Linked DNA regions of Homo sapiens. The protein of the gene in region 3 interacts with the protein of the main gene of each other region in a biochemical or structural test. Each region holds a gene or a part of one and is shown on either strand. Other genes may lie near its edges.

Region 1 (7,032 bases), on a different chromosome or scaffold from region 3:
ACCTTGCATGTGTCATAGAAACGCTGCTTTATTGCTGCAGAGGTCAAAGTTCAAGGCTCAAGAGGTACAGGAGAGAATACAAAGGTAGCCTTTAGAAACGTGGTCTTGTTTATGTATAAAAAAGGTAAAGTTTATAAAAGTTAATTTACAAACCAAGAACAAAAGTGGTATGCACGCATTATGTACAAGCATCCTTAAAACATCAAAATTTTCAAATGCATAGCCAGAAAGAACAGAAAACCACCACTGCCCCTTGTCAAAAAAAAAAAAAAAGAAAAGAAAAGAAAAGAAAAAAATATCCCCAAATCACACCACTATTTTCTTCTGGGTGATAACACATTTCTGAAACCACCAAATGCACAACGTACTCAGTCTTTGTCATGATACAGTATCTAGATAATGCACAAAAGCCATAAAAACTTAGTAACACAAGGAGAATGAGCTAAGAATTAAGAACATGAGGGTAAGGCATTTCTGCTGGTTAGTATGTCTGTGGTAATATGGTGAAGTTAGAGATCTGAAGAGGCCATGGAACCAGTCTCACATGCTTTTGTATCCTTCCCTAAGAAAAATGTGTTTTCATGTACAGTAAGTCATTGTCTTCACTTCACCCTCCCCCAGTTGTAAATCTCCTTGCTGTACATTTCTGTTAAATCCACAACACTGGTTATATATTCCAGGTGCATTTAAAAAATGTGTGCATATTACTTCATGCATAATAAAATAAAATGTGTACGTATGCTAGGCCAGGGCCATAGTAAAGTTTGAAACAGTGTACTTTGGAAAGAACAGACCTCAAATGCACCCCCATTTACTGGCTGGTATTTTAACGGAAATCAATATGTGAAGTTAAGCAGTGACGATAAAAAAATTACAAAAATCACAAAGCAAAATATCTTTGAACCTCTAGCCAATACCAACAGTCCCGTCAATCACAAACATGCAGTGTGTAGCATGTTTTCCGACCATGGTTCAGGGGCATGCTCACTCATCTTTATCAGTTCAAACAAATGCCTCATACTAACAAACTGTAGTATCAACTCTAAAAAAGGTATAATACTTGATAGAGTGGTTCCATTTAGATTAAGTTTAATCCAGTTTCACATTATTTAAGTTCCTATATTTCAAGAGTTAAAAGTGGTCAATAAGGACAGAAACACAGTTTGCTCCAACGAGATAATTTGGATCTCCGGGAAGACACTTGTTTTGCCAGGTTTTAGGATCACCTATGAGAGAAAAGAAGTTGATGTCATTTACAGTTCAGTAAACTGCTATCCGTAATGCTTTGCAATTATAGGGCAAATACGTATATTTAGACATAATTTTCTTCTGTTTCTTCAGCATATTGAATTTGTATCAAAACACATTGCTGTATTTCAAAGCAGATCTGCTGGCATCTAACAATTCCAAAGGTGTTTCACACTTCTAAAAAAATTTTTTTTAAAACGTTCTTTCTAACTCACACCATTAAGAACAGTTTTTTGTTTTTTGTTTTTAATTTTCAGACTTCTCCTTTATTACATTATCAAGTGCATTGGCCTTTTCAAAAAATGAATACAAGTGAGTGATGGCAATCTTATGCCTGGGACAGTCCCAGTTTGCCAGAGCCCACATAATTATCAGTAGCACTTTTTTTTTTTTTCCAGTTTCGAAAGTCTGGAGGATAATTATGTGATCACCTATTTGAGCTGAGAATGAGGACACATTTCTCACACTCAACTATAAACCAACAAATGAAGCCCAGTTCTGCAGAATCTAGTTCTTGAAGACTGTCTTCCCCCTTACAAAAAACAAGCAAAAAAACGAGACTGCACCAGAGCTGCTCAGCTCTGATTCCAGCTGGACAACAAAATTAATCATGCAGCTTCAAAAACTCATTGACTGGGTGTTAGTTAGGTCTCAGGATTTAAGTTTTTAATAAGCTCTTGGTGATTTCTATTAGATGTGAAGGCAGGGACGACTATATGTCTCTGTGGTGTCCAAGCAAGCTGAGAGTCACAGCTGTGGACGTTTGCTTCCCTTACAGAAGTAGCTCTCAAACAGGAATGACCCTGCCCCTGATGGGACATCTGGAGACAGTTTTGCTTGTTACCACTGGCATCTAGGGGTAGAGGCCCAGGGAAGCTGCTAAATATTCCACGACGAACAGGAGGGCCCTACAACAATCATTTGGCCAAAATGTCAACAGTGCCAGCTGAGAACTTTGCTTACAGTACGTTAGACATTACCTAAGCAATATCTGGAGCCAAAAGCATTTCATTTTTCCAGAAAATGGGGTACTTGTAAATATGAGGAAATATGTATTTACATGTAATTTTTTCCTCTGATAACATTAAAATATGCTCTTGCTATAATCTTTAGACCACAAACTTTTATTTCATACTGTACCAAACTAAAACTAAATAATGCTCATCTGATTTATCAAAGATTTGGAAGCTAGACTTTAAATCAGGTTCGCTTAAAGTGATCTACACCCAAAATAAAATTCTAATTATTAACTGACTTAAGTCACTCAAGGAAGTGAGAAATGTGAAAATGCAGTGGAAGCTTTGAAATTATCTCAGGAGAAAAAGTCATTTACAAATAGTGTATAAAAGAAGTAATTTAGAGTATTACACTGAAAAACCATGGCCAAGTATGATCACAACGGAAGATCTTGTTAAGTTTCTCTGGTATACATACGTTGTAGATTAAGAAATTAAACAGGCCAGGCACGGTGGCTCACACCTGTAATCCCAGCACTCTGGGAGGCCGAGGCGGGTGGATCACTTTAAGTCAGGAGTTCGAACCAGCCTGGCCAACATGGTGAAACCCCGTCTCTACTAAAAGTACAAAAATTAGCCAGGCATGGTGGTGGGCACCTGTAATCGAGGCTGAGGCAGGAGAATCGCTTGAAGCTGGGAGGCGAAGGTTGCAGTGAGCTGAGATCGTGCCACCGCATTCCAGCCTGGGCGACAGAGCGAGACTCCACCTCAAAAAACCAAATCAAAACAAACAAACAAAAAATAAATTAAACAATAGTAACCAAAAATAGAAATAGTTATATAAAGGAACAAAGTCATTTTAATAAGGTAAAAATGCCTATTTGTGCAGGACAATATCTCCCACTGCATCCTGAAAAATTTGACAGAATAAATCATTTTTCTGAACACCAAGAAATAGTCAATATTTGGCCATATTATCAAAAAAAAATTTTTTTGAGACGGTCTCGCTCTGTTGCCCAGGCTGGAGTGCAGTGGCACGATCTTGGCTCACTGCAATCTCCGCCTCCCTGGCTCAAGCAATTCTCCTGCCTCAGCCTCCCGAGTAGCTGGGATTACAGGTGTGTGCCACCACGCCTGGCTAATTTTTGTATTTTTAGTAGAGATGGGGTTTCACCATGTTGGTCAGGCTGGTCTTGAACTCCTGACCTCAGGTAATCCACTTGCCTCAGCCTCCCAAAGTGCTGCGATTACAGGCATGAGCCACGGCGCCCGGCCCAAATTATCAATTTTTAAAAGGCAGAAAGTCTTCTACCTTTCCATATTTATTTACAATATATGCACCACAAATAAATGTGAAAACACTGGTGATGCCTACAAGGCCACAGGAACAGAGATAGAGATTTGCTAACACACAGCATGGGCAGCATCATCAGCCCAGGTATTAATCAACGACAGTCCCCAAAGCTCCCAAAGGACAGAGTGAAGACAGCATACCCGACGAGGAGTCGGATGATTTTAGAGCAAAAGACCAACCGTCAGGAGTCATGGACGCACAGTGTGGTAAGCGCAGCTCCACAGGCTTCAGGAACTTGAGGCCATGGGGACCACACATCACCAAAGGACTCAGCAGTGTTTCACCTGGAGTTGGAAAAGGGGATAGGCAGAGAGGATGGATGTGGTCTTTCTTCTAGAATCCCAGTTTTCCTCACCCTGCTTCTAATTATATGCTTGAAAGCCTAATGGAGTTAGTTCTCTACAGTCGCACTGACCACAAAAAAACGTAACAGCAGCCACATATGGAATCTTAAATTTCCCAGTAGCCACGTTAGAAAGTAAAAAGAAACAAGTGATATCAAATCTTACAATATTTTAATATTTTAACTCAATATAACGAAAACACTGTTATTTCAACATGTAATCAATATATGAAATCTTTGGAACTTGGTGTGTATTTCACATTTCCAGCATCTTTCAATCCCAAATTGTCACACTTCAAGTGCTAGCTAGCCACGTGCAGGCAGTGGCTACTGCATTCAATCATATGGGTCTATAATAAAAAACATATTCAAATGTGCTTGTTGCGAATGTGATATATTTTCCATTTTCAAAATGTTTTGTTTGCTCCATAGGTGGTTAAAGAGATTCATGCAGGGCCAACACAGTCAGTCCTACTGGTTTTTAAAACAGGATATCCCCAAAATCAGAGTACAGAATCAGATGTCAGTATTCCGGCAAAATACAAAAAAGCGAACTAAATTTGTTTAGGAAGTAAAAGCACTGCTAAAAGATGCTAAATCACAACACACTTCGTTATAATATCCTGGTAGATCCAGGAGGATTATGAAAATAAGTTTCCTTAAGAAGCTCAGAAACATGCTGTCATCTCCTCTGAGACTCCTTCATGCACTCTGCTGAGCATGTACTAGTGCTAGGTTCTGGGGTGATGAATAAGACAGTACCTGTCAAGAGGTTTAGGTTCTCCAATCAGGTGAAGGCACAGCAAAGCCTTTCTGAGTGGGTGTTACCTAACCCATCTCCAGAGACGCAAAGGCTGACTGATTCAAAGACAAATTTGGTTAGGTCAGCCTAGGCTGCTCAGCAGGTGAGACATCCCGTGGCCTGTCCTATGCCATCATTTTTTATTTCACACCAAAAGTAAAAGCAGGCAGTGTGGTCACCACAGCCTTGCTTCAGGCCACCCACTGCTTGCTTGCAACACCGTCCCCAGGGCACCCCTCGCTACAGCACTCATCTGGAGATAGAGAGGTGCTGCATTATTAGCCAAGCACTATAAGCTCTGAAGTGCACACAGGGCAACTCTTAAGTTATCAAAACTAAGGAGAAAAATAAACACATTTACCTTTCTCTTTATCTAAAGGTGGAAGGATGCTGTTGTCCCGGCAGACCTTGAAATAGATTTCCTGCTCAACTCCTTCGGGAATGGCTCCTTGAGGGATAATTATACTAACACCAGTTTCTATGGAACTCAGCACGCCCCCATTGCTGTTAAATATGCCTCGGGCTGTGGCCACCACAGTATGACCATCTTCATCTTCATCCTCTTCCACAGCTGAAGGACTGAAAGTTCAGAAATGGCTAGTGAGTGAATTCCTAATAATACACAGGTGCTTTGCTTTTACTACTACTGTATTACGTGCTTTCACTTTTATTTCTCCATATAATCAAGAAGTTACTTTAACAAGATAAGTTTCTGGCAACAGATTTTACTGACAGGGTTATCGCAGAGAATATTATTTCTTTTTTGTTTGTTTGTTTGGTTTTGAGACAGAGTCTCACTCTGTCGCCCAGGCTGGAGTGCAGTGGCACAATCTTGGTTCACTGCAACCTCCATCTCCCAGGTTCAAGTGATTTTTCTGCCTCAGCCTCCCATGTAGCTGGGACTACAGGCGCACGCCACCAAGCCTGGCTAATTTTTGTATTTTTAGTAGAGATGGGGTTTCACCATATTGGCCGGGCTGGTCTCAAACTCCTGATCTCGTCGTGATCCACCTGCCTTGGTCTCCCAAAGTGCTGAGGTTACAGGCGTGAGCCACCGCGCCTGGCGAGAATATTATTTCTAGAGAAATTCCATTCTAGAAAATTTCAAAAATTCTAGAGAAATGTCAAAAATTCAATTTTTGAAGGCAATTAGTCAAACGACCTTCATTAATGAATTGCAACCTGAAAGTGTAAAATCTGATGCCTTGAACACCCAACTACAGGTGAAGCATCCCTAACCTGAAAATCTGAAATGCTCCAAAATCGGAAACTTTTTTTTGAGTGTCAAAATGAAGCTCAAAGGAAATGCTCATTGGAGCATTTTGGCAATATTCCAAAATCCAAAAAAACCCAAGATATGAGACACTTCAGAACCCAAGAAGTTTGGACAAGGGATACTAAACAGGTACAGAGTTTTATGAAGCACATTTTAAAATCCATGAAATTGGAACTTTAAAACTGGTAAGTCACAATTTAATTGGTAGCCCTGTTCTTCCCTTCCTGTTGTTTTTTGAAATGGAGTGTCTTGCTGTCACCCAGGCTAGAGTACAGCGGTGCAATCTTGGCTCACTGCAACCTCCACCTCCCAGGTTCAAGCAATTTTCCTGCCTCAGCTTCTGAGTAGCTAGGATTACAGGCGTCTGCCACCATGCCCGGCTAATTTTTGTATTTTTAGTAGACATGGGTTTTCACCGTGTTGGCCAGGATGGAACTCCTGACTTCCAGTGATCCGCCCGCCTCAACCTCCGAAAGTGCTGGGATTAGAGGCATGAGCCACCGTGCCTGGCTGTTCTTCCATTTTTAGTGACACAAAACAATGGTGCATCTCACGGCTGACAGCATCTCAGACTTGATAAAATCTCCCTAGGATTTTAAGTGTGCCTGAGTATGGTCCTGCCTCAGCATTCCCTGAGGACCAAGCGCCCGCTCTGGCTGTAGGAGGCAAGGCTTCCAAGGTTCCATGAGGCGAAGACCCTTGTATGGGCATATCCCAAACATCCACGAAAGAGAGACAGTAGATTAACTTAGTAATCACAGAACGCCAAAGGCAAAGGGGATGTGGTATCAATGACTGCTTCAAAAGTAGAGGCTATCAACTTCCTGAAAGTACAGTTTTGAGCCAGGGCTCAAAGGTGAGCAGAAAGACCAACGAAACAGAATTACATGAAGGTAGCTGCCGTTTCACTCCAGCATGACCGGAGTGCCAGGGACGACATCCTACGACACAACATCAAGGGAGCAGAGCGCAGCCTGAGCTGCAGAGCAGAGGCCAGCTCTGTCCGCCCCTGACCATCTGTGGATGTGCAGAGCTAGGAAGGCAGTGACCGCC
Region 2 (5,968 bases), on a different chromosome or scaffold from region 3:
TTGGGAGGCCAAGGTGGGCGGATCACGAGGTCAGGAGATTGAGACCATCCTGGCTAACACGGTAAAAAACTCCGTCTCTACTAAAAATACAAAAAATTAGCCAGGCGTGGTGGCGGGCGCCTGTAGTCCCAGCTACTCGGGAGGCTGAGGCAGGAGAATGGTGTGAACCGGCGAGGCAGAGCTTGCAGTGAGCCGAGATTGCACCACTGCATTCCAGCCTGGGCGACAGAGCGAGACTCTGTCTCAAAAAAAAAACAAAAAAAAAGAGTTCGAGACCAGCTTGGCCAACATAGTGAAACTCTGTTTCTACTAAAAATACAAAAATTAGCCGGGCCTGGTGGCAGACGCCTGTAATACCAACTACTTGGGAGGCTGAGGCAGGAGAATCGCTTGAACCTGGGAGGTGGAGTTTGCAGTGAACCGAGATCGCACCATTGCACTCCAGCCTGGGCGACAAGAGTGAAACTCCTTCTCAAAAAAATTTAAAAATTCTTTCCTTGCATTACTAAAAAAGATAAATAGCTTAACATAGTTTTTAAAAAATTAATTTACACAGATATCTGAGATTTACTGAAGCCCTTAAATCTTAGCATGTAAAATTTAATAAAATCAACTTTGCCTAGTAATTCTGATTTTATCCAGTAAAATTACTTGTTTAATTTTGTCTTTAATACAGTTGACACATTACTTTCTTAAAAGATTTGAGTGAAGTTGCAAGTTTTGGGGTTTATTTTTGAGACAGAGTTTACTCTTTTTGCCCAGGCTGAGTGCAATGGGATGATCTCAGCTCACTGCAACCTCCGCCTCCCAGGTTCAAGTGATTCTCCAGCCTCAGCCTCCCAAGTAGCTGGGATTACAGGCATGCGCCATCACATCCAGCTAATTTTTGTATTTTTAGTAGAGACAGGATTTCACCATGTTGGCCAGTCTGATCTTGAACTCCTGATTTCAGGTGATCCTCCTGCCTTGACCACCCAAAGTGCTGGGATTACAGGCATGAGCCACCATGTCCAGCCAGTTGCAAGTTATTAATATTTAGTTTTGATATTTTGCCCACAGTATAGACCTGATTTCGAATACTTTTTTTTTTTTTTTTTTTCCTGAGACAGAGCTCACTCTGTCACCCAGTCTGGAGTGCAGTGGCACTATCTCAGCTCACTCCAACCTCTGCAGGTTCAAGTGATCCTCCTGCCTCAGCCTCCCGAGGAGCTGGGACCACAGGCATAAGCCACCACGCCTGGCTAATTTTTTGTAGAGACAGTTTCACCATGTTGCCCAGGCTGGTCTCAAACTCCTGAGCTCAAGCAATCCTCTCGCCTGAGATTCCCAAAGTGCTGGGATTACAGGCATGAGCCACTGCACCCAGCAGGTTTTGAATATTCTTTATTGCACATTCATTTAGAAATTCCACCATTCTCACGGTTTAGAAAACCTGTCTGATTCCCCAGCACCTCAGGACCTCCAAGCTGCACATGGACACAGATCTCAGGAGCGTTAGTGCCTCCTAGCTCGGCTTCTGATTGAGTCGGTCGAGGGCCAAGTGCCTGTGGGCTTTGGTTGCCCACTGAAGTTTGACCTCATTTAGAGGATTCTTCTGGCACTGACTTTTCAAGGGACTGAAACAGTTACCCCTACAGATGGTGAAACCTCCTGTAAATCATTTTTTAAGGTCTTTTCTTCCCTTACCAGTCCAAAATGTTTCTAGTAATATCGTGGCATTTTTAGATATGCAGCTTTAGAGTGAAAAAACCCTGAAGTTTCACTGGCTTTGTGCCGTTTTGAGGAACTATGCATGACTGAGTATATAATAAAAGTAGTCATTTAGAAACCTATTTAGATGATCAAAGATAAAGTGGAAGGTTTTGAATATATTACAAAATTTTAGAGATGCTACACTCGTATATATTTATATGTAGATAACAGCTTTATTGAGATATAATTCACTTACCATACAATTCACCCATTTAAAGACTACACTTATTTTTGACAGATCACAGTGCTGATAGCTTAATAATGCAATGGGAACTCTGTATAATGGTGGTATTTGCAGTAAGACTAACACCAGATTCAGTTCTATCTGCCTTTTTCTGTATATTACGTTTTCATGAATAGGACATGATATGACATCCAATTCCATTTAATACTAAATAGTGAAATAAGGTTCTACTTGTATTAAAAGCAGTGTATCAGTACATTTCTACTAGTATGTTATTTAGATTATCCATAATTATAGTTACTATTCAACCATTATTATTCAAACAGCATATCTTACTTTTTTCCTAATTTAAAACATTACCTAGAAAAAACTTAATTGGTAGTTTTTAAAGTTACTCTTTTAATATGCACACCAGACAGATGTTAGAGGTTTTAATATCAATTTAATATAAACTGTGTTTTACCCTGGATTAAACTGAAATGTTTCTTGTTTGTAGGGAGCAGCTGCAGATGACGGCCGATTAAAACGAGGGGATCAGATTTTAGCTGTTAATGGCGAGACCCTGGAAGGTGTTACTCATGAGCAAGCAGTCGCCATTCTAAAACACCAGAGAGGGACTGTAACCTTAACTGTGCTGTCATGAGCCTCGGGCCTGATCACAAGATAGATGTTGTTGTTTAGAATATCCACAGGCAGATGAAGTTCTGAGTGGGTATGAAAAGCACCCTCAACTAAAATGCACCTTCATTCTTATTTCTTGCCCTCTCTGCTCAGGAGAAATGGCTGAGGTTTCATGTGAATTTCCCAAATCAACAATCATCTCCTAATGTTTCCCAGTTCCTGTCACCTGTTGGCGAGGTTGATTTCTAAAACTTAAATGAGTCTACCTGTTTTGCATTTAATTTCAGTGTTCCGATTTCTTTTTTTTTTTTTTTTTTTTTTTTTGAGACGGAGTCTCACTCTGTCACCCAGGCTGGAGTGCAATGGCGCAATCTTGGCTCACTGCAACCTCGGCCTCCCAGGTTGGAGCGATTCTCCTGCCTCAGCCTCCCGAGTAGCTGGGATTACAGGCATGCATCACCACACTGGGTTTATTTTTGTTTTTTTAGTAGAGATGGAGCTTCCCCATGTGGGCCAGGCTGGTCTTGAACTTCTGACCTCAGGTGATCTGCCTGCCTTGGCCTCCCAAAGTGCTGGGATTCCAGGCGTGAGCCACTGCGCCCAGCCCAGTATTCTGATTTTAACCAACTGGTTCTGATTATATTTACCAAAACTGGAGTTAACTTCTCTTTCCTTATACTCTTCTCTCCCTATCCCCTACTCACACCGAGGCTTAACAGCAACCTCAGATCTCATCCAATGGACAGAAACAAATGTTAAGCAACTTGTCATCTCACTCATGATTTACTTATGCTAATTGTCTCTTCAAGTAAGCAAGAAAACATTAGCAGTGTAATTAATTTACCAGTGATCCCCAAGATGAAATACCAGATTCTCCTATGGGAAATTACTGTGCTGTCTTCTGTATGACTTATGGTCAAATAAGTCTCAAATTCATTTCTCTGGATAGATCTTTATATGCTAGTCATTGGTGATTTTGATGAGTCAATTTACAGACTGTAATCTTCTAAAAATTCTGAAAGACTAATTGTTTTCTGTGCCATATAAATGCATACCACTGAGCAAATGAACCTTATTCTCAGCAGGAACAACTAGCATACATGTTCTGAATTCTAACAGTGCTAAATTACATTCAAGTCCAGGAAGATCACCTGGAATTAATGGCATTTCAGTTGGCAGGCATCATTCCCACCCCTCGGTCTTAGGAAAAGGAGGTAGAAGCCCCAGAACCACACGGCAGAGATCAGCAAGTTTTGTCTCAAGTCAGACAAGGTCTAGGTGGCCTTGGCCTTATGCAAAGTGGGTGACATATTTGATTATATTTCCCTTTACCTCCATAGTAGTCAGGCCAGCAGCATGGACTGCAAGAACCTAAGGGAGCAACATACTTAGCTGCAAAGTGAGCAAATGAATTGAGCCTAGGAATATGTGATGAAAATGCATGGCTGATGTTTCCTGATCTCCAAGGAGACTCCCATTTGCTGAAGTTTTGCATGCTAAGAAATCAACTACAGCAGAAAATACAAGAATACCTTTAAGTTGATTATTGGCAATCTTATTCATATATTAGCAAGAAAAAGGGAGAGATGCTTACTGGTGGATGCTATAGAGTCCTCTGTTTTTAAAAGTACCATGGCCGGGTGCAGTGGCTCACGCCTGTAATCCCAGCACTTTGGGAGGCCAGGGCAGGCGAATCATGAGGTCAGGAGTTCGAGACCAGCCTGGCCAATATGGTGAAACCCTGTCTCTACTAAAAATACAAAAATTAGCTGGGTGCAGTGGCAGGCGCCTGTAATCCCAGCTACTCCGGAGGTTGAAGCAGGAAAATTGCTTGAACCTGGGAGGTGGAGGTTGCAGTGAGCCAAGTTCGTGCCACTCCACTCCAGCCTGGGTGACAGAGCAAGACTCTGTCTCGAAAAAGAAAAAAAACCATGAAGGATGAGTACTAGAGTCAGTAATAGAAGTAGTTCAGCATTATTTAACTACAACACAATGCTGCAAATATTTCACAGTAATTATCAAAATTTAATGGGCTCTAATTTAAAATGTTATTTAATAAGTATAGATTTTAATTGAGAATTATCTTTGAGTAGATGTAATCACAAAGTGCATTAACTCTTGTTGGAATATTTTATGGCTATTCCAAAGTATAGAGTGCCTAAATTTTGTGTTGAAAATGTCTTTCATGACGGTATTAAGTTTTCTGAAATTACACATGGCTTTTAAAATTTCTAATGTATCCAAGATGTGCAATGTTGTTAGGATCTCATTCTTCAGTGCATGAAAAGCTACTACCCTCAGAACATTTTGTGTTAATTGTACCTGCAAGAACACCTCAGGCAAGCCAAGAAGAAATGAAACCCAAATAAAACTTGAAAATGCACCTTAAAAATATATATACATATAATAGTTTTGAAATGGGATTCTGCTTTATTTTGATGGAATGGCCATTAAATACACATTTTGAGATAATACATTGTTGTGGTGTTTCTTTATACATTATCCTTTTAGGTCGTGCTAGTAAAAGTATATTGATGAAGGAATTATGATGCTTTATACTTCTTACTGCACTAAATTGATAGAACTAGTACTTGTCATAATCGGTTCTGTCTCCGCTCACATGACTAATACGTAATTGCCTTTCCAAAAAGATATTTTTGCCTCAGAACTTACTGACAAGCTGAGAGGCTATGAAGATGGAAATTTGTGAAAGAAGTAGTGCTCTTATATTTGGCCTCATCATTTGGGCCATTTCAGTATAGTAATGATATCACTAATCGGAATTAGCATGAGAGGGAAGTAAGCCAGGAAGAATAAAACTGCTGAATGTTTGTATGTGTAAGATATTTCCAAAGATTCTAAATAAATGTAGTTGCCTACAGAGCAAATGGAGTTTTATTATATATGAAAAAGTGTACTTTCTGGATCTAATTGTGCTTTTTCTTCAGCATTTTCTTCCCTAATAGAAAAAAAAAAAAAGTCCAACTTTTCACAAGGTTTTTTGGTGTCCTGTTAAAATCTGGAATCCATGGTGGCTCACGCCTGTAATCCCAACACGTTAGGAGGCCGAGGCAGATGGATCACCTAGGTCAGGAGTTCAAGACCAGCCTGGCCAACATGGCAAAACCCTGTCTCTACTAAAAATACAAAAATTAGGATGGGCGCAGTGGCTCAGGATCCATGCCGCCATGCCCAGCCAACCTCTAATGTTTCTTTCCTGGCCCTTTCATGCATGTGCAGGTGAGTATTTGACAAAGAGGCGATCTCCATGGCTCTGTCAACCTACAGCTCCCTCCTTTCCAGACACTACATGTTCTAGCCAACTTGGCTGGCCTCCCTGAACGTGAATCTCTTTCTCCTCTACTCGTGGACTCTGTGTGAGTTTCCCCTTCCTGAGTGTGACATGGATAC
Region 3 (7,032 bases):
TGTATGTCCCCTTTTTATAGATGAGAAAAAGTATTAAGTAACATCTCCTGGCATCCTCTTCTATTACCACCCTTGATGAGGAACTCAATTTGAGAGAAATAGGGCATTCTAGTGGGTGGAGCCACTCAAATTTGATAGATGGGCCAGAGGCATCATAGTTCTTTCCCAGGATCATGGTGAGTCAGATCCTGTCCCAAGCCACCTCCTCTACCAAGAATGGCAATCTTGCAATAAATGATTAGAAAACAAGCCAATAATCCTTTTTTTAAATTAAAAAACAATTTATTGAAAAAGAGTAATGCTTTATACAAATTCCTATTATAAAACCCCAAAATGTCTATTGGTCTGTTTCCAGGTGTGGTAGAAGAATATAAAAAGATCAAAATTGGATAAATTCTATTGTAACAATTTCGTTGGTCATTTTGGGCCATAAAATTTTTTTGTAATGTTTGGTAACTGATATCCACATGGAATTACACTCACACATCATGAAGATCTATGTATGTGGCAAAAGCCATTTAAATTTTAACTTCCAAAAGCATATATTCTCAGGTTTGGAAGGCACACTAAAATTTATTAGGTCCAATTCCTCATAAGACACAGTGGCTGACTTTCCTTGTGTAGTTTATTATGAAGTACCATTTCCAAACTAACTATCCTAGCAGCGTCAGCTGCCAGCTAACAGCAAGAGCTCTGAGGGCATCACTGAACAGATAGCACCTTATGAGTTATTATGATTCAAAAATCTCCCTTGCTGTTGGATTTACCAACACGTAGGCTTTTATTTCTTCCCATTACATCTGTTTAGCCACAGAAAGCATCGGGCCATACTCACTGCAGAAGATAAGACTTCCTCAGAATCTTATTTGTTTAGTGCACTCAATTTTACTTCACTGTCTCATCACTTGAGAGACTGGTTAAGGCAAGAAACCCATTTCTTAACATTTTTTTTGTTTTCAAACATTTGAAAAGCAACACCAAAACGTATGCAGTTAATTCCTCAATTCTTTCCCTTAGTATAGCACTTTTTAAATTACAAAACCACACTTACATGTATTCTATCTCACTGGATCCCCACAACATCACTGTGAGGTGGGAAGATCAGGAATTACAAACCACCGCTTACAGATGAAGCAATAAGCTTACAGCAGCCAAATGCCTTGCTCAAACACAGACGGTGATTGATAGCACCAAGACTCAAATCCAGGTCTCCAGACACCAATGCCAACACCCTTTCCATTACATCATCTTGCTCAAGTGAAATAGCATTCTGTACAGACTGGAAAAGTAAGAGCAGTTGTTAAAATGGAACAGAGCACAAACATGTCAGACACAGCTGAAAGAATGGAAATAGACTGGTAGAGAGAGGAAGGCACTGAGCCACATGAAGGTATGTGCGTAGGTTTTGTTCAGTGGAAATAGACTGGTAGAGAGAGGAAGGCACTGAACCACATGAAGGTATGTGTGTAGGTTTTGTTCAGTGGAAATAGACTGGTAGAGAGAGGAAGGCAGTGAATCACATGAAGGTACGTGTGTAGGTTTTGTTCAGTGACTTCTTCAGTGTCTCAGCCAGCTGAGCAAATAAAGACACTACATAGGCATAGTTCATGTTCAAAGAATGAGAGTAATATAAACTAATTAATATTCACACTACCTCTTCTAACTGGTTAAGTATCATTATCTCAATTTGGCAGATAGAAAAAAGAGGTAGAAAGATTAAGTGACTTGCTTACAGCTACAGAGAGAATATTTGTCACCAGATTATCACTCCAGAAAGTCTAGCACTTTGTTCAGACAAACAGACCACACCTTATTAGGAAGATATAAAACGCATGATAATTACACTTGGGAAAACAATACAATTAAGGAATGGGGAACAAAAAGGTAGTTTAGGGGGATATAAAACTATGAATAAGTAGCTTAAAAATTCAATCAATAAAGTTGTGTTACAACACCTGGGGGAACAGCATGCAGCTACTCAATTGGACAAATATTTTCAAAGCAAACAAGAGTGCTATGGGTCAGAGTACAGGGATTGTGTGGGAAGGTCAACAGGAATTTATCACTTTGGTCATGCAGAAAGATTTGCCTCCAAAGTTCTGATTTGTAATAAATTCTTCTTGGCTTTAGAAACTAAAATGTAGGCTATGAAATGTGTTAGATTCAGGAGATAGAGACCAATGAAACACAAAACAAATAAGGGCTTAATAACGATGCAAGTGCTATAAGATTATGGTAAAAAATAAAATAAGTATATGAAAAGGGCACGCATGAAGAATTGAAAGAATTCATCCTTGGTAAATTAGGCTAGGTCTTGTGGCAAAGGCACCCAAAGCTAATGAAGAAGAGTAAATGATATTTGACTGTTACATATGTATATATAGACGAAAAAGAAAATATACCAATAAACATCTTCATCAATATGGAATTAAATACATTTACCTATTTTAGAGATATTTTAAGTATGCTAGTATCAACATAATGAGAATAGTATTTTACTGTCTATTTTTAATAGAAAAACATGTATATATACATATCTATATATATTTAAGGAGCACCCCTTCCCCCAGTTGAGTATGATTACTCAATGGGAAGCAGTAATACAAATGGAAAAATCTTCCCTCCTATATTGAGGAAAGAAGATAAAATAAGATTAAGCCATGTTTAGCACTGAGTATTTTAACACATGGGTTTTTTGTTTGTTTGTTTGTTTTGTAATACCATACTTCAGATTACAATACCCAAAATTCTAAGGTCCTAATGTTAATGATAGTATCTCAATGTCCATTTTCGGTTTGTTTCAACATGATTTTCTCCTTTTGCCTCTGTGTCACACGTAGTCTTTCCCGCTGGAAGGTGCAGGTTTTGGATAGGGCCTTGGTGTTGGGTAAGAGGTTGTTTTTCGGGGACAGGAACAGCAAAGTAGGGCACCTCCCAGAAGGCAGAGAGAAGCAGCAGCCCAGCCAGTGAAGAGAGCCTGACCAAATTCGTACCTAAAAGGAAAAACCCATGTGCTTGTTAATCAGTGAATTATTGGCAACTTTTCTAATATAATAAAAGGAAAAAAAATCAATACTCATTGTATTTTTTTCATTGAAAATAACCCCTGAATATCCCTTGGGAAGTACTTTAAGATTTCTGAACATACACGCCAAAGAATGTTTATATTGCAATTGGTGACAATTTGCAATAGTAGATCAGGAAATAACACATGTAATACCAGGTTAATTACACAAATAATTCCAAGGACTTTTCCATATATAGGATACTTGTAAAGCATGTTTATATGTTTTAGAAGTAGGGTTTGGATCATGGTTCCTAGGCTGAAACTTAGCAAAGGAAGCTTTATCACTAAGTAGTAATCATATTCTATAAAGAAACTGATAGAGCATAATGGAGATAATCAGAGCTTTGAACAGATGATCCATTGGTCCCAGGCACCTATACAATCTGAAATCCAAATCTTATGGTTTTGTAAAGAAAAGTTCTAAGCAGCCCATGAACCATTCTGGATTAAGCTGATCCAGGCAGATGTATTAAAGCAGACACTTAGGGTGGGGTATCTGTGAGTGATTATGGACAATACGGAAGAGTAGAGAAGGGTTGGTTCTATAAGTTATAAGGCCAAGTCTAAATCCTGATGCAGACTCTCAACTGCTGCAATTCTGGGATAGCAACTTCACCTCTCAGCCTCAGTTTCTCCTACTCTCAAAGCAGGATAATCCCACCTGCCTCAATAGACTGCTTTTAGGATCACATGCAATAATGTAAATAACAATTGCAAAATGGCTGGCAATTTATAAAGTGCTTTCCTGTGCATTACTGGTGTTATTACCTTGGCGAAATTTTAGCCTACTGACCTCTAGCAGTTTCTATTCTTACACTGTAAATCTTATGGGATGGGCTCCAACACAACCATTGCAGTATGTGTTCTCCCATATGTGGGTGATTATATAAAAAGAAACACATCTTATCTCTCCAAACACTGAGGTTTTTCATCCATTCATCTAAGCACTCAACAAACAATAATTATATTTTAACATCCTGACTGAATGTAGTTATTAGGCATTAAAGATGTGAAGACAGTGAGATGAAGAGCCTCGTCTCTGATTAAAGAATGTTGTTACACGAGAGCTAAGAATCAGCTCAACTTGCACAACCTGCAGTATTAAGAAAGATGACCTTTGTAAAGCCAATTTTACAGTTGTGAAAGAACAAAAAATTTCAAGGTGGTATCTGAACATACTAAAAACATACATAATAGCTTTACGTGTAAAAATGAACTGTTGGGAATGAAGTATTATTCATTAACCCCTATAGTAGTATAATTTTTCTCAATCAATCATAAACTGTGCATTAGTTACAAATAATCTTAGGTAGGTGTTGTAAACATCAGAATACACTTCAAAAAGGAAATTTCAAATATATTAACATCTTTATTAATATTTGAAAAAACAAACAAAAGAAAGCCCAGTTATACAGTTGAAAAGCACAGAGCTTGAAACTTTTCTACTTTGGAAGGTATTTTGTCATCAATACAGGGTGTTAAAGCAATTATCAAACTCATTTTGACATAAGTCAGAGATCATTTAAATTGTTTGTAGGTTTGACATAAAATTCTTGAAAGCAAATCTGGGAAATGATGGCACTAGCAGGACTTTGTAGAATATAAAAAGGGCATTTTCTCAGAAAACAAACTATTTTACGCCTGAATAGCGTTACCTGGCATTGACTGGGGTCATAGGGTCATAGAATTCTTGAACGATTCTATTGCCATACCATGCTGTGGCAACTAAAATAGCCAGACCTATAGAAATTCAAAACAAAAGACTGTTAATCACCATGGAACACTGAGCCTAAATACACAACCTGTTAAACCAAAACATATTTTGCAAGAATTAAATCTCATCAATAGTGTTGACATTTTTATTTTGGTATTAGGGAGATTAGAAGTCCAGATATGATTTATTCCAAGTATCTATTAAAATATAAAAAAATACTAGGTTGGCATTAGACAAAATTTATACTTTTTTATGATATCTTGGCACAAATAATTCTTTTTTGGAAACAATTAGGCAGGTGTATGTTGTACAAAATCTCTTTTAAATATGCTGTTATACATTAGGATACTAAACTACATTTGATAAAACTATTGTCATTATTAGTACAGGTAGAATTACTTGCAAAAGGGGAAGATGAAAACTCTTCTATGTTCTTGATCAAACTCAAAATTTACATTTCTGCAGAGTCAAAAGGAATGCAAGCAGCTAGATAGAGTGAGATCAGGACATGTCTCAGAATGGACCAGAATACCTGCATTACTACTGCCCCATTGGCCAAGGGAATACCTGATATAGGTATAGGTTGGCCTGAGATTTGTTGAGGGTGCCACATCAGATCAATTTATGCAACCCAATCTCAATTTCCCATGGCATTTTATATTCAATGATAGCAGAGAAATCATTTAGTCAAAATCATTCACTTAATCATTTATAAGATGTATAAAATACTTCATTTTTTTATCAAAAAAGTTAAATAACTTTTTTGTAGTAATTCTAAGTATTCATCAATATAGATAGATTAGATGTTTCTATGCTACTGTCTCTCCCCAGCCAAAAACATGGTCCAATGTAATTGCCTCTAGACATGACAGAAAACACTATTGCTTTTGGCTTCTCAAATAGACCATGCGAATGGTCTTGAACTTGTGATGCTTACTCCTAAGAGAAGTCCCTGAAACTGGAATAGGAGTGATGCAGTCACATGTGGGAGTTACAAGAAGGCAAGCGAAGGAAGAATGCAATGCATTTCATCCTCATCGTCTTCCAAGCACTTCATACACTTCATGCCACGATGGCCACAAAGATTACTATTCGCAGCCTTTGATATAAGAGTAAATTATTGGGAATAAGACACTATCCATGCCTTTTCAGAGAGGAGTCAATTTGTATTTGGGTAAACTGAGAGACTGGTCATTTTAAACTAACCACATCTTTAGCAAAGCCACAGATACTCTTCCTCAATTACTGGTTAAACTGACATATTATACTGAAGCAAAAGCCCCTACAAGTCTTCTGTCAAAAAGAAAATAAGAAAATAAAGTCTATTCTAGTTTTTTTCTATTAGTAGATTTGTATCATTAATTATATCTGTTATTTTTTTAAAATAATATACTATAATATACTACATATATAATATATGCATCTAATACCTAATATAGAGAACATATAGTAGTCTATTATTATAGCTGTATAATTTATATGGAGATTATCAACATATATAACACAGTGTATAGATATAAAGATATATATATACACACAGAGAGATTGCATATGTATGTACATATACACACGTAAGTATACATACACTATAATTTTTTAAATAGGCATTATTATAAAGCTTTGAAATAATGCTGTCCATGTTTTCTGACTTTGATTTTCTCAAATGACACATAATGTAACTTATCAATCAACACTTGAATTAAAAAACAGATATTTCTTTTCTTTTCTTTTTTCTTTTTTTTTTAGACAGTCTTCTGTTGCTTAGGCTGGAGTGCAGTGGTGCGATCTCGGCTCCCGAGTTGAGGTGATTCTCATGCCTCAGCCTCTGGAGTATATGGGATTACAGGCGTGCACCACCACACCCAGCTAATTTTTGTGTTTTCAGTAGAGATGGGGTTTCACCATGTTGGCCAGGCTGGTCTTGAACTCACGACCTCAGGTGATCCGCCCTCCTCAGCCTCCAAAAGTGCTGGGATTACAGGCGTGAACCACCACACCTGGCCTAAAAAACACGTATTTATTTTAAATGGAAAATATAATATTATTTTATCAAAAAAATTTAAAGGTATTTCTGTATTTTTTTTTTCCTAACTGCTTTAAACTGACCATTCCAACAGGCCACCTCTACTCCAGTTGGCCTTTCTTTTCATTGATCTACAGGCACATCCTGTTTATTCTCGAATTAGATCTGCCCAGCTGGAATGCTATCCTTATTTTTCTCCAATAATCCCAATCCTTCCATCCCTCACAG
Region 4 (7,032 bases), on a different chromosome or scaffold from region 3:
TTGTATTTTTAGTAGAGACAGGGTTTCACCGTATTGGTCAGGCTGGTCTCGAACTCCTGATCTCAGGTGATTCGCTCGCCTCGGCCTCCCAAAGTGCTGGGATTACAGGCGTGAGCCACCGCGTCCGGCCAAAATGAAGGGAGAGCTTTAAATGCTGGCCTGAAGACATTTGGCTTTATGATATTAAAGGATATTTTTTCCCAAAATAGTAAAATCATTACTCTCATACAAATACAAAATGAGGCCGGATGCGGTGGCTCACGCCTGTAATCCCAGCACTTTGGGAGGCCGAGACGGGTGGATCACGAGGTCAGGAGTTCAAGACCAGCCTGGCTAACATGGTGAAACCCTGTCTCTACTAAAAGTACAAAAAAAAAAAAAAAGGTGCTTTATGTGTCTGCTTAATTCATTAATTAATATGGGAACCGGTAAGACTTTATAGCCTATACAGAGGGGAATTAATTTGTTTCCTTTCTTTCTTTTTTTTAAAAATTGAAAATAGAAATGGGGTTTTGCTGTGTTGGCCGGCCTGGTCTCGAGCTTCTGGGCTCAAGTGATCTGCCAGCCTCAGCCACTCAAAGTGCTGGGATTTCAAGCGAGAGCCACCGACCCGGCCTCAGCATTCTTGATTGCCTGTGTGTGTGTGTTCTTTCAGTTCTCCTCTGGACCAGACACGGTGGCTCACGCCTGTAATCCCAGCATTTTGGGAGGCCAAGGCAGGTGGGTCACTTGAGCCCAGGAGTTTGAGACCAGCCTGGCAAACGTGGTGAAACTCTGTCTCTACTAAAAATACAAAAATTAGCCAGGTGTGTTGGCGTGTGCCTATAATTCCAGCTACTTGGGAGGCTGAGGCAGGAGAATTGCTTGAACCTGGGAGGCAGAGGTTGCAGTGAGCCGGGATCGCACCACTGCACTCCAGCCCCAGAGACAGAGCAAGACTCCATCTCAAAAATGTCATTCCGTGCCCAGAATGACAGCACCTTAGCGTAGATGGTTTCCATGGGGCAGGGGGCCCCCTCTAGCCCTGGGACACTGTAATTCACCTTTGGCTTTCCCACTGGGGGCCCGAGTGGAGTTAGAAGCATGGAGAGGCAGCCCAGGGGATCCTTAGTGGCAGATGCTTAAACCTTTGAGCCTTCCCTGAAATACTGCTCAGGGTCAAAACCGGGATCCCCGTTTTACAGATGAGGAAGCTGAGGCAGGGGCTGGAATTCACATGGGCTCTGCTTTTCTCTCTCTGCTGTGGAACTTCCTTCTAGAGCTCAGCCGTCCTCCCTTTTGGGGGAAATGGCATCTTTGGCATGGCTTGGTGGCTCCCGCCTGGAATCCCAACATTTTGGGAGGCCGAGGTGGGAGGATCGCATGAGCCCAGCAGTTCAAGACAGGTCCGGGCAACATAGCGAGATACCGTCTCTACAAAATATACAAAAATCTGCTGGGCAGGGTGGCGTGCACCTGTGGCCCCAGCTACACAGGAGGCTGGGGTGGGAGGATCGCTTGAGCCCAGGAAAGTGGAGGCTGCAGTGAGCTATGATTGCACCACTGCACTCCAGCCTAGGTGACAGAGCAAGACTCTGTCTCAAAAAAAAAAAAAAGAAAAGAAAAGAAAGTCCCCTGTTGAACACCCTGAGCTGCATTCCATACTCCAAGCTTCTAGCAGGTTCCACACTCCTCCTACTTCAAAGTGCCCCCCATGAGTCCTACTTCAAAGTGCCCCCCATGAGGTCCTCCAGCCTCCCCAGGACGCCAAACCCTGAGACGTTCTTCAGCCCTCCAGTGCCTTAGGGCTGAGCCGGCCACACCTAGAATCTGCCCTTCCTCAAAGGTCGTTTGGATCTTGGCAACCCACAGACCGGGGCGTCTCCTCCCACCTGGCTGCCCTCCATCTCTGCTCTCTGTCTCTGCTCCTGCCCCGTCCTCTCCACACGGCTTCCTTAAAACCTCCCAGGGTCCCCCAAAACCCATGACGCCAGTCTAGTCATGAGGGAAACAGCTGGTCCCCAATGTCCCCACATTGAGAGTTATTCTGCAAAAGACCTGCCCAGCACAGACTAACAGGTCACAGAACAGGAAAGACAGAATCGGTCACAGCCCAGCGGTGTCTAAGGAGACGTGACAGCCAACTACCAGGTGGGATCCTGGATGGGGCCCTGGGGCGGCAAAGGGCCTGCGGAGAGACGTGAATAAAGTGTGGAGTTCAGTGAACAAGGTTGTACTGATGTTGACTTCTTGGTTTTGACATATGTACCCGTGTAATAATGTTAATGTTAGTGGAAATCAGTTGGGTGTATAAAGGAATTCTCTGTGTATTTACTTTTCTGTAACTTTAAAATTATTATTATTATTTATTTATTTCTTTTTTTGAGACAGAGTCTCGCTCTGTCGCCCAGGCTCTGGAGTGCAGTGGCACGATCTCGGCTCACTGCAACCTCCGCCTCCCAGGTTGAAGTGATTCTCCTGCCTCAGCCTCCCGAGTAGCTGGGACTACAGGCGCCCGCCAACATGCCCAGCTAATTTTTTTTTTTTTTTTGTATTTTTAGTAGAGACGGAGTTTCACCGTGTTGGCCAGGATGGTCTCCATCTCTTGACCTCGTGATCCACCTGTCTCGGCCTCCCAAAGTGCTGGGATTACAGGGGTGAACCACCACGCCCGGCCTATTATTATTACTATTATTTAATTTCTTTGTTGTTGTTTTGAGACAGAGTCTCTCTCTGTCACCCAGGCTGGCTGGAGTGCAGTGGCGCAATCTTGGCTCACTGCAACCTCTGCCTCCCGGTTCAAGAGATTCTCCTGCCTCAGCCTCCTGAGTAGCAGGGATTACAGCAGCCCGCCGCCACACCCGGCTAATTTTTGTATTTTTAGTAGAGACAGGGTTTCATCATCTTGGCCTGGTTGGTCTCAAACTCCTGACCTCATGATCCTGCCTCAGCCCCCTGAGTAGCTGGGATTACAGGCACGTGCCACTACGCTTGGCTAATTTTAGTATTTTTAGTAGAGACAGGGTTTCACCATCTTGGCCAGGCTGGTCTCAAACTCCCGACCTCGTGATCCACCCGCGTTGGCCTCCCAAAGTGCTGGGATTACAGATGTGAGCCACCGCGCCCAGCCCGTTCTTTTAGTATTTATTGAGCACGTACTGCATACACAGTGATGGGGCTGCAGAAGAACTGATTGACAGACACAGTGGAAGCCCACAGTCTTTAGGGGAGACAGACAATAATTGAATAATCGCATATGTAACTAAAAAGTACAATTAGGCCAGGCGCAGTGGCACACACCTGTAATCCCAGCACTTTGGGAGGCCAAGGCGGGCGGATCACGAGGTCAGAGTTCGAGACCATCCTGGCCCTGATCCACTGGGGGACCTCAGCCCAGCCCCTGCTATCTCTGGGCCTCAGTTTTCCCACAAGCACTCAGAAGGGGTTGAGCTGGCTCATCCCAGGGAGGCCTCCAGAACTCCACCTTCCCTGGGTCCTCCTGTCCCTCACCCTGCTCAGATCACACTGGCCCTGAACGCTGGTTCCCAATCACACGTCATATACTTGGCTTGCAACAGTTTTGTTGACTGAGTGACTGAATGCACAGAAGAATTAAGGCACAAATGAAGTAGATTGCTGAAAAGCAGATTTTCTCTTTTTTTCCTTTTCTTTTTGCTATTATTATTTTTACTTCGTGAGGCAACAGTAGAAAACCAGGTTTTTTGTTTGTTTGTTTGGTTGGTTGGTTTTTTTTTTTTTTGAGATGGAGTCTCGCTCTGTCGCCCAGGCTGGAGCGCAGTGGCGCAATCTCGGCTCACTGCAACCTCCGCCTCCCGGGTTCACGCCATTCTCCTGCCTCAGCCTCCCGAGTAGCTGGGACTACAGGCGCCCGCCACCACACCCAGCTATATTTTTGTATTTTTAGTAGAGATGGGGTTTCACCGTGTTATCCAGGATGGTCTCGATCTCCTGACCTCGTGATCCGCCCGCCTCGGCCTCCCAAAGTGCTGGGATTACAGGTGTGAGCCACCGCGCCCGGCCAAAAGCAGGTTTTTAATTCATTAAGGTGATCCGAAGGTCAGGGGTGGTGGGAATAAGGGGCTTAAGGCTATGCCCATCTCCAAAGCCTTGGATTTGAACCCAGGTTTGGAGGATGGTACTAGGGAGCCATCGAGTGTTCTTGAGCAGGGCATGGATATGAGAGCAGACGGTGGGTGGTTGGAGGAAGACAATGTGTCCTGGTGCAGTTATCCAGCTTCCTCTCTTAGAGGGGTTGACAGTGGGATTTCTCTGCGTTGCCCATTGACATTTGGGGCCAGATCCTTCTCTGGGATGGGGCCATTCTGGGCAATGCAGGGTGCTTAGCAGTATCCCTGGCCTCCACTCACTCATGCCAGGAGAACCTTCCAGGTTTATTTTTTTATTGTTTCATTTTATTTTATTTTTTTGAGTTGGAGTCTCGCTCTTGTCATCCAGGCTGGAGTGCAATGGCGCAATCTCGGCTCACTACAGCCTCTGCCTCCTGGGTTCAAGCAACTCTCCTGCCTCGGCCTCCCGAGTAGCTGGGATTACAGGCACCCACCACCACACTCGGCTAATTTTTGTATTTTTAGTAGAGATGGGGTTTCCCCATGTTGGCCAGGCTGGTCTCGAACTCCTGACCTCACGTGATCCACCCACCTCAGCCTCCCGAAGTGCTGGGATTACAGGCGTGAGCCACCACGCCCGACTTGTTTTATTTTTGAGATGGAGTCTTGCTCCATTGCCCAGGCTGGAGTGCAGTGGCGCCATCTCAGATCACTGCGACCTCTGCCTCCCGGGTTCAAGTGATTCTCCTGCCTCAGCCTCCCGAGTAGCAGGGATTACAGGTGCCTGTCACTACGCCCAGCTAATTTCTGTATTTTGAGTAGAGACGGGGTTTCACCCTGTTGGCCAGGCTGCTCTCGAACTATTGACCTCAAGTGATCCGCCCATCTCAGCCTCTCAAAGTGCTGGAATTACAGGTGTGAGTCACCGCGCTCGGCCTGGTATTGAACACCAAAATGTCTCAAGACGTTGCCAAGGGTCCCCCTCTGGTGAGAGGCACTGGCTTGGAGTTCGAGGTGCAGGGGCAAACAGAGCTGCAGCCAAATCCCTCAGGCCAGCTCACCATCTGGCCTCAGTTTTCTCAGCTGCAAAGTGGGCGCACGAGTGTTGTGTGTAACTGGGGCTGCAGCCAAGCATATGCCAGTAAACATGGCCCGGGAGCCCCATTCACTGCTAGGACTTTAACCCACTTATTTCTTTATTTATTTTTGAGACAGCGTCTAGCTCTGTCACCCAGGCTGGAGTGCAAGGGCAAGATCATGGATCACTGCAGCCTCGACCTCCTGGGCTCAAATGATCCTCCCACTTCAGCGCCTAGAGGTGCCTGCTACCACACCCAGCTCATACATATATATATATATATATATATTTTTTTTTTTTTTTTGAAACAGAGTCTCAGTCTGTCGCCCAGGTTGGAGACAGTGGCACGATCTCGGCTCACTGCACCCTCTGCCTCCCAGGTTCAAGTGATTCTCCTGCCTCAGCCTCCCGAGTACCTGGGATTACAGGCGGGTGCCAACACGCCCAGGTGACTTTTTTTTTTTTTTTTGAGACGGAGTTTCGCTCTTGTTGCCCAGGCTGGAGTGCAATGGCCCGATTTCGGCTCACTGCAACCTCCGCCTCCCGGGCTCAAGCAATTCTCTTGCCTCAGCCTCTCTAGTAGCTGGGATTACAGGCATGTGCCACCACACCCAGCTAATTTTGTATTTTTAGTAGAGACGAGGTTTCTCCATGTTGGTCAGGCTGGTCTCGAACTCCCAACCTCAGGTGATCCGCCCGCCTCGACCTCCCAAAGTGCTGGGATTACAGGCACGAGCCACCACGCCTGGCCCATGACTGTTATATTTTTAGTACAGACAGAGTTTCACCATGTTGGCCAGGCTGGTCTCAAACTCCTGACCTCAAGTGATTCGGCCGCCTTGGCCATCCAAAGTGGGATTACAGGCGTGAGCCACTGTGCCCAGCCATAGCTTATATATATATATATATATATATAATTTTATTTTTTTTTGAAACATAGTGTTGTGCTGTCTGCCCTGTCACCCAGGCTGGAGTGCAGTGGCGTGATCTCAGCTCACTGCAACCGCCGCCTCCCAGGGTCAAGTGATTCTCTTGCCTCAGCCTCCTGAGTAGCTGGGATTACAGGCGCCTGCCACCATCCTTGGCTAATTTTTCGTATTTTTGTAGAGATGGGTTTTGCCCTGTGGGCCAGGCTGGCCTCCAACTCCTGACTCAAGTGATCCTCCTGCCTTGGCCTCCCAGAGTGCTGGGATGACAGGCATGAGCCACTGCACCCTGCCTAAGATATTTTTAAAAATTTTTGTGGATGTGGAGATGGGGGTCTCACTGTGTTGCCCAGGAATGAGAGTACAGTGGTGTGACCATGACTTACTGCAGCCTCCACCGCCTGGGCTCAAGCAATCCTCCCAGCTCAGCTTCCCAAGTAGCTGGGAGTACAGGCAAGTGCCACCAAGACTGGCTAATTAAAAAAAAAAAAAAAGGCCGGGCACGATGGCTCACGCCTATAATCCCAGCACTTAGGGAGGCCGAGGGGGGCGGATCACAAGGTCAGGAGTTTGAGACCATCCTGGCTAACACGGTGAAACCCCATCTCTACTAAAAGTACAAAAATCAGCCGGGCATGTGCCTGTAGTCCCAGCTACTCGGGAGGCTGAGGCAGGAGAATGGCGTGAACCCGGGAAGCAGAGCTTGCAGTGAGCTGAGATTGCGCCTGGGCAACAGGGCGAGACTCCAACTCAAAAAAAAAAAAAAAAAAAAAGTGTGTGTGTGTGTGTGTGTGTGTGTGTGTGTGTGTGTGTGTGTCTGTGTGTGTGTAGAGATGGAAGTCTCACTCTGTTACTCAGGCTGGTCTCTCCTGGCCTCAAGAGATCCTCCCGCCTCGGCCTTCCAAAGTGCTGGGACTACAAGCGTGAGCCACTGTTCCTGGCCAAGCCTCTTATTTTAAAG

Evidence for each region.
Region 1: the proteins of CLDN1 (region 3) and TJP1 form a complex in vitro, tested with the Homo sapiens proteins (2 studies listed by BioGRID and IntAct, with this or other methods).
Region 2: the proteins of CLDN1 (region 3) and PATJ form a complex in vitro, tested with the Homo sapiens proteins (2 studies listed by BioGRID and IntAct, with this or other methods).
Region 4: the proteins of CLDN1 (region 3) and TJP3 form a complex in vitro, tested with the Homo sapiens proteins (one study listed by BioGRID).

Annotation. Positions count from the first base shown.
Region 1 is NC_000015.10:29,700,464-29,707,495, forward strand, and holds part of TJP1 (tight junction protein 1), read right to left. Parts: intron 5,283-7,032; coding exon 5,065-5,282; intron 3,843-5,064; coding exon 3,699-3,842; intron 1,227-3,698; coding exon 1,132-1,226; 3' UTR 1-1,131. UniProt on the Homo sapiens protein: TJP1, TJP2, and TJP3 are closely related scaffolding proteins that link tight junction (TJ) transmembrane proteins such as claudins, junctional adhesion molecules, and occludin to the actin cytoskeleton.
Region 2 is NC_000001.11:62,158,476-62,164,443, forward strand, and holds the end of PATJ (inaD-like protein), read left to right. Parts: intron 1-2,432; coding exon 2,433-2,579; 3' UTR 2,580-5,440; downstream 5,441-5,968.
Region 3 is NC_000003.12:190,305,447-190,312,478, forward strand, and holds the end of CLDN1 (claudin-1), read right to left. Parts: intron 4,808-7,032; coding exon 4,723-4,807; intron 2,994-4,722; coding exon 2,831-2,993; 3' UTR 261-2,830; downstream 1-260.
Region 4 is NC_000019.10:3,711,369-3,718,400, forward strand, and holds part of TJP3 (tight junction protein ZO-3), read left to right. Parts: intron 1-7,032. UniProt on the Homo sapiens protein: TJP1, TJP2, and TJP3 are closely related scaffolding proteins that link tight junction (TJ) transmembrane proteins such as claudins, junctional adhesion molecules, and occludin to the actin cytoskeleton.